Homo sapiens: one gene and its partner. The protein of the gene in region 1 purifies or fractionates together with the protein of each later gene. This does not show direct contact. Each region holds a gene or a part of one and is shown in the gene's direction. Other genes may lie near its edges.

Region 1 (4,222 bases):
CATCGCAGCCTTTTGTTGGGAGATGACACTGTCAGTCAGCCCATGATGTCTGTTCACACGAGATGCTTTTTTAATAGAATTGACCAATGTTTTGCTGCCACTGATTAAAGTATTATTTATACTAATTGTTGCTTGTAGTTTTGATGTAATTCATTGATCTATATTTAAAATAATAAAAGGTGTAGCAAAATCTCCCTCCTGTTTGGTGCCTTAACAGAAGCATTCATCCTTTGTTAAGTCTTCTAAAAGCTAACATTTAACATAAACAAGTTATTATTTTCTGCAATAAATTAGGCACCATTTTTTGGGGGGTGCCTAAAGTGTGAAGGTTAAACCATGTAAGGCTTAGCAATTCTATTATTACCACCTCCTTAATGTACACACACTCCCAGTTGGCCACCATATTTTGTGAGCATTGGGAAGCCTGGGGTTGAATTCAGGGTACAGAGTGTTGGGTGTTAATTTTTTGAAGAAAAAGTAATTGCCCAGGTTAATAGGGGGATCCAGGTTGGCATTCTGCTGGGCCCGGGCCAGGCCCCAGACCTTTTTGGTCTGGAAGCCCTCAGAGGAAGTCTTTGGGAAGTGGTGGATGAGACACCTTACTGGTCCCCCACCCCTAAGGCAGGGAGAGCGTGCTGGGTTCTGGGCCGAGCTGAGGCTCCTGGGTGGCTGCTCTGACCTGACCCCCGGGCCTCCACTCTTGGGCTTCTACTTTTCCAGTACTGTTAAGCTCCTGTGGGGACTCCAGCACCTGCCCCTCCTTCTTCCGCGCCCCCTCCACCCCTCAGGCAACAATAAACACTCCCCACTATAAAAAGTGCCCTGCACTACATTTACCGCAAGGGCTTCTTTACATCTTGGCCTCGCCTTGAAGAAGGGGCCAAGACAGGAGTCCCAAAATAGATGGGGGTGCTTGTTCCAGACAGGAAATGAGCAGAATGCATAAAATCAGACATCTGTCCTTAATATATGGAAGGGCTTGCCCCAGACGCGTGGACATGTGTATTTATAAGTGCGCAGGCAGAAGTTTAAATATTCAGACACATTTTATGATTGTCCTCTGCCCGTCTTCTGCTTAATGGCTCCTCCCGTGCCCACCAATACATCAATACCGTTGTGTGTATTGAATCGCGGGCAGGGATGAGGAGGAAGCGAGTCCATAGCAGAGCCCGCTGAGTATAGAGTACAGTAAATCGGGACCCTCGGCGGACGGCGCTTCCCGCCCGCCTGCCCGCCATGTTGGGGAGCCCTCCCTGCCCCCCGCGCCGGGCTGGGCGGCCGGGGCTCGCTGGCAGCCGGGGGAGGGCCTTTCATAACCCGGAGAATTTTCTAAGTGCGAGGAAGATGATAAGAATAGATTTCTACAAGTCCCGACCACGTGATTGGCGAAATAATTAATTCAGCACGTCCCTTAAGAAACACGGAGTCGTCATTAATCTGCCACGCAAAGGGCTCTCTCCGACTTGGAAAGTGCAGGGATCCCAAGAATATCACCCGTCCAGGGGGGCCGCGCGGTGCCCCCGGCCCTCCACCCCCGGCCCCCGGCGGGCGCGGGAGCGCGGCCGCAGGTAAATATTTTGGCAACTTTTATTTCATCAGATTTAAATCCTTAATGAACTTAGCTGTCACGGCCGCTGACAAATAGTTCCCTTTGCTTCCTGATTTGGAACTGCGCGCCGGCGAGAAGTTGTTAGTGGCTTGGATGGTGACCTTTGGTTCAGCAAAGCTTTGCACTTATGAAAAATTACTGAGAGCGGCCGAGTGTGTGTGTGTGTGCGTGCGTCCGCGCGCGCGCTTGTGTGTGTGAGAGAGGGAGAGACAGAGACAGAGACAGAGATAGGGAGAGGGTGTGTGTGCGAGGCGCTAGGGTGCCAGGGGGCGAGGGGTGAGGGGCGAGGTGCACGCGGGCTGCTCCAAGACAACAGGAGTTGTAAAAAACCGGCCCGGCTGGCGGACGCGCCTGGCGCACGCGGGCCGAGGTTGCCTGGTCGCCTGTGTCTACCAGGAACAATGGTCGCTGTCACGGCATCTGCCGCCTATTCTTAAACCGGTGAGAAAAGGCCCTGGCCCTCTTTTCAAGCGAGGGTCGTAAATTTTTCTTTGCGTCATAATAGAAGGCTATAAAATCGAGTTGAAATTTTACCCCAGGCAGGTTTTAACCAACAGATAATGATTTCCGAGTTGCCTCTCCCCCCGCTCCTCTCTCCCCACCCAAGTTCTGCTGCCTCTGTCACCCCAGCGAGTTTCTTCTTCTTTCCCGTTTATTTTTGTGTTTGTATTTTTTATTTCTATTTTGGAAGAGCTAAAATAAACGCGAGAAGAAGTCCCTGCAGCCCGAGTGGGAGACCCCGGGGCGACGGGAAGCCTGGGGAAAGGAGGATGGGGGAGAGGCCAGTGCGGGCTGCAGAAGGCTGTTTCTCTGCTCGCTCCCGTTTCTGCCTTTTTTCACCGGCACTCCAAGAAAATTGGGTGTCCTAAGAGCCACTCCGCTCCGTTCCACCCCATCCCCAGCTTGCCAGGGTCGTGGGCTGGGGCAGTAGCGAGCATTCTTTTCTTCCAGCTTGCAGCTCCGACCCGGGCGCCTCTTCATTCGCCTCCTTCCCTCTTGTTGCTGTGAGATACCTCCATTGGCTTTCAGAATGATTTCAGCGAGCAGGGGCTGGCTGCGCGTGGTGGTTGTTTTGGGATTATGTGTGCGTGTGTGTTTGTGTGTGTGTGTGTTTTCATTTATTTTTTGGTGTGTGTATATTTCCCCGTCAGGACAGAAACAAAGTTTCCCCCATTATGAATTATACATTCAAACAATAACACATTAATTCAATTATTCAAAGATGACAAATGTTTATGTGCTTTGCGAGTGACTCGGGCGCAGATTCCAGGCGCTTTCTCTGAGCTGCTTGCATTTTTCTCAATGAGAATCGTCTCCCCTCCCACCCCCCCCACTCCAACCCACTCCAACCCACCTAGATATCCCCTTGTAGGCCCAGAGAGGAACCCACAAAAAGCTTCCCCAGCCCTGCTGGCAGCCCGGCAGCCAACAGCCTCCCAAGGCCCCGGCTTGGCGGGCACTGGCCCGGGCTATTTTATCAGTGTGACAATTGCCCGGGTTGGTGTGATAAATCATCGTAAGTAATTCCTGAAAGGGTGCGAGACTGTTGGGGGCCGGGCGAGGACTGTAAATCTTTCCGGTTTATTGCTCTATGAACATATGCTCCGATTGAAGAAGGCTTAGATCCTTTCCTGGAGACAAATTCCCGCAAAGCAGCCCCCCTCTTTGGCTGGGGATTAACACTTGCTGCTGGCCGTCAGGTCGGCCTCTGGCAAGAGGCTAGGGGGCGGGGTCCTCCGGGTGGGGGTGGGCTGGGGTCACCCACGATCCGGCTTCGAGAGACGCCCCGAGTGGGCCTCTGGCCAGGCCCGGCCAGGTGAACAAAAGGATGGGCTCGTAGACGGTTCTGGGGGCTCGGGCCTCCAGGACATTCCTGCGCCTCTGGAGTGGGGATGCGGTGGACCTTACCCACTCCTCTGGGGCTCTTCTATGGCTGCTGGGCACTTTCACCGGTCTCAGACCCTGCAATCAGCAACAGAGCATTTCACTGTGCCTGATGCCGCTGAGCAGAGCTGGCAACGAAACCAAAACTTCGGGGACAGGGTGGAGAGTTCCCCGTGGTGCGGGATTCCCGAGTGTGGCCCCGGCTGGGGGAGGGTCTTGGGCGCTCATTACAGGCCAGGAGGTCCGCTGCTGGCGCTGGCACGCTTAATTCTTTTTTCCCACATTGCAGAATCATTCCCACCAGCCACTCGGAGAGTGGTGGGAATCTGTCTTGGTTTAATATTTCTAAAATATAAGTTTCATTGTCCCCCAGGTTAGCCCAGCCAGGACTCATTGCGCAGTCCTCCTCGCCTTCCTGGAGGCGCCGCAGGAAGCGGGAAGTCGCGGCTTGGCGGTTGCTGGGCCTGTGGGATCTGCGGGTCCTGCCCAGACCTGGAGTCGCACAGATCACGGCGGGCAGTGGCTCAGCGCCTAGGCGGCTCCAGGCCTCGAAGGACCAGGTTGGGGTGCTCAGGGATCAGAGAGGGGAGGTCGCTCTGGGTCCGGGTCGCCTGCTACGCGCCTTTTCTGTCTCAGAAGTGGCGGTGACTCGGCTGCTGAGTCCGCGGAACGAGCCACGGAATGGTGGTGGTGGCGGGGTTTTCTGAGGTGACTGGCCAGAGCTGAGAG
Region 2 (3,500 bases), on another chromosome or scaffold:
AAATACAAAAAATTAGCTGGGCGCAGTGGCGGGTGCCTGTAGTCCCAGCTACTCGGGAGGCTGAGGCAGGAGAATGGCATGAACCCGGGAGGCGGAGCTTGCAGTGAGCTGAGATGACGCCAGTGCACTCCAGCCTGGGTGACAGGGTGAGACTCTGTCTCAAAAAAAAAAAGCTTACGAGTTCTCTTAGAGTGTGTAAACTCTGAAGAAATGGCCTTATTATGTGATTGTATCTGCTAATACCTTATGCATAGTAAGGACTTGAATGTTTATGCATTGATTACAAATCAGTCATATTTTTCAGTCACCTTGAATATTTTTATATATATTCTAAAAGAAAAGTGATGCTCAATGATTTCAGTATATATTATACATATTATTTCTCTTCTTCTAGTTTTTATTCCTTCAGCACTCCATATACTATGCCTAGATCTCTTTAACTTATTATTATTTTGAACTTTTACTTTATTTATTTTACATTATAGCTGTAAGTATTTATAGTGCTCTTATGTTAGTCTCTTTGGGTGGCCATAACAGAATACTATAAACTGGGTGGCTTACAAACAGCAATTTATTTCTCACAGTTCTGAAGGCTGGGAAGTCCTCAATCAAAGTGCCAGCAGATTCAGTACCGGTGAGGGCCCACTTTCTGGTCCATAGATGGAGCCTTCTCGCTGTGTCCTCACATGGTAGAAGAGACAAGGCAGTTATCTGGGGCCTCTTTTATCAGGGCACTGTATTAGTCCATTCTCACACTGCTATAAAGAAATAATCCGAGACTGCGTAATTTATAAAGAAAGAGGTTTAATTGGCTCACAGTTCTGCAGGCTGTACAGAAAGCATGATGCTGGCATCTGCTTGGCTTCTGGGGAGGCCTCAGAAAACTTACAATAATGGCAGAAGGCAAAGGGGAGCAGGCACAACACATGACCAGAGTAGGAGCAAGAGAGAGAACGAGGGGGAAGGTGCTACACACTTTTAAACAACCAAATCTCACAAGAACTCACTCACAATTGTGAGGACAGTCCCAAGGGGAGATGACTCTAAACCATTCATGATATATCCACCCTCATGAACTAATCACCTCCCTCCAGGCCCCACCTCCAACATTTGGGGATTACAACTCAACATGAGATTTGGTGGCGACACAGATCCAAACCATATCAGGCAAAAATCACCCTAATCACCTCCCAAAGGCCCACCTCCTAATCATACTAGTGATTAGATTTCAATCTATGAATTTTGGAGGACACAAATGTTCAGACCATAGCAGCTCTCTTTAAAGATTTCTTTCGCTACCTAGCCCCCTCTGCATTTGTTTCCTCCCCAGACCACCCCTCCCATACATCTATCCTTTCCTTTTTTCTCTGTCTTGTGTCTAGTTTCATCCTCTTTTGTGTTTCACTTTCTTTTGTAGATCACTTTGGGATCTCTTTATAATTAACTTGTTTCCTGCCTTTTCCACACAAGTTCTCCCTCTCTTTCCTCTGAGTAACCCAACTCTTTCCTTTCCTTGTTAGGAGATACCTTCTTCCTGCTCTTTTCTTCCTGCCTGTACCTTGTCATACTTAGTACACTTCCTGTAGTTCATCTCTATTCTGCAGAGTTCCTGAAAACCAGCTCATTTTCTCTGGCTCTTCAATTGGGCAGATGTTTACAGGTTTTATTGTTTACATTTCCCCCCTTCTGTTCTGGGTCCCTGAAGTTGATCCAGGTTGCTGCCTCCATGTGACTGGCTGACTCCCTGGGCAGTTGGTATAAACCTGCTTTTCACCTTCCTCCATTTTATTCGAAGGCATTGTCATGGTTTATTTTCCTTTCCTGAAGCACACTTCCTGGCTACATTGCATTCAGACACCTTCGTGGGCCATCTGCCTTTGGCTCATAATGTATCTTTGATTGCTGATTTTATCAGGTAAAGCAGTCTGTTTCCCAGTGAAAAATCTTCTGGCATTGTCTATTTGGCATCTTCTATTTGTCCCAGGTGGTTTTCAGTGTAAGATTCCTTATCGCAACTCCTTAGCCCATATGCCACTTACATTAGGCCAGTTAATACAGCATAGGATAGCTTTAGCTGAGACACAGTGAGTCCTGTATATTCCCAAAAAGATTGCATACGTTTTGTAGCCTGGACCTGCCCGGGTTACTCATCAAACCTGGCCCTCTTTCTCCTATTACTGTCACTAACATAGGTCTAGTTTTTCTACCTTTTTGAAGCCCACATCACATTCCGCATGCCAATGATTGGAATTTGCTTCATTTCAATTTGGATTTATTCCAGCTGAAATACTCAGAATCGCATCATCCCTAAGTAGCCACATGTGTTGTTTCCATGAAGCAAATCTTCCTGAAAAAAATCTTCTCATTGTCTTACCTTAATGAAAATGGAATATATTCTCTTTCTTCCCAGTCTTTTGTCCTCTGGATCTTCTGTAAGTCTCACGAAAGGCAAAATAGACCTACCATCATCAAGTTTCAGAGTAGCACCTCTGGAGTCAGGCAGTCTGGGTGTGAGTCCTGGCTCTACCAGCTTTTTAATCTGAGGGATCTATCTCATTTTTCTTAGTCCCCTTTCCTCACCTGTATGATGAGAGCCATAAAGGTACTGATTTTATTGAGTTAGGTATTTTGTACACTGCTTCCCTGGGTTATATAAAGTACGTAGCATGATTCTCAGAAGATAATGAGATCAGAGGTGTTAGTGATTTGGTTTTTATTTTTCCTTCTCTTTTGGCTGTAGAGTTTACAGAATGTTAGCACTAGAAAAGACCTTAGGCCTCACCTACTTTGACCCCATCCCTTTAGGAACCCTAAATGAAAAGTTCCCATAGCCACCTATACTAATATCTTCCAAAGACTAAACAGCTCTAATGAGGGTGAAATAAAAACACACAGTTCTATGTTTAGGAAAATGTAAAGGGAAAGATGTTGATAATGTATGTTTTTGTTTGTTTGTTTGTTTTGAAATGGAGTCTTGCTCTGTCGCCCAGGCTGGAGTGCAGTGGCGCGATCTCAGCTCACTGCAACCACCGCCTCCCCGGTTCAAGCAATTCTCCTGTCTCAGCCTCCCGAGTAGCTGGGATTACAGGTTTCCACCACCACCCCCCGCTAATTTTTGTATTTTTAGTAGAGATGGGGTTTCACCATGTTGGCCAGGCTGGTCTCAAACTCCTGACCTCAAGTGATCCACCTGCCTAGGCCTCCCAAAGTGCTGGGATTACAGGCGTGAACCACCACTCCCGGCTTGACAGTGTTTTATTAAGTGGAAAGTCTACACTTTTCACTCTGGTTGTAAACAAATACATTTTAAGACTACAGGATTAACCTAGAGGACATTATGTTAAGTGAAATAAGCCAGGCACAGACAGACATATATAGCATGATCTCATTCATGTGTGGAATGTAAAAAATGTTGATCTCATAGAAGTAGTGAATAGAACAGCGGTTACTAGAGTCTGGGGAAGGGAGGGTGGAGGTGGGGAGGACAGAGGATGGTCAAT

Evidence for each region. Proteins that work in one complex are often made in the same cells at the same time.
Region 2: the proteins of HOXD3 (region 1) and CTH purify together in Homo sapiens (affinity purification with mass spectrometry; one large-scale study listed by BioGRID and IntAct). This does not show direct contact.

The regions. Positions count from the first base shown.
Region 1 is NC_000002.12:176,155,885-176,160,106, forward strand, and holds the start of HOXD3 (homeobox protein Hox-D3), read left to right. Parts: upstream 1-1,422; 5' UTR 1,423-1,568; intron 1,569-1,583; exon of another isoform or gene 1,584-2,050; intron 2,051-3,366; exon of another isoform or gene 3,367-4,053; intron 4,054-4,222. UniProt on the Homo sapiens protein: Sequence-specific transcription factor which is part of a developmental regulatory system that provides cells with specific positional identities on the anterior-posterior axis.
Region 2 is NC_000001.11:70,424,768-70,428,267, forward strand, and holds part of CTH (cystathionine gamma-lyase), read left to right. Parts: intron 1-3,500. UniProt on the Homo sapiens protein: Catalyzes the last step in the trans-sulfuration pathway from L-methionine to L-cysteine in a pyridoxal-5'-phosphate (PLP)-dependent manner, which consists on cleaving the L,L-cystathionine molecule into L-cysteine, ammonia and 2-oxobutanoate.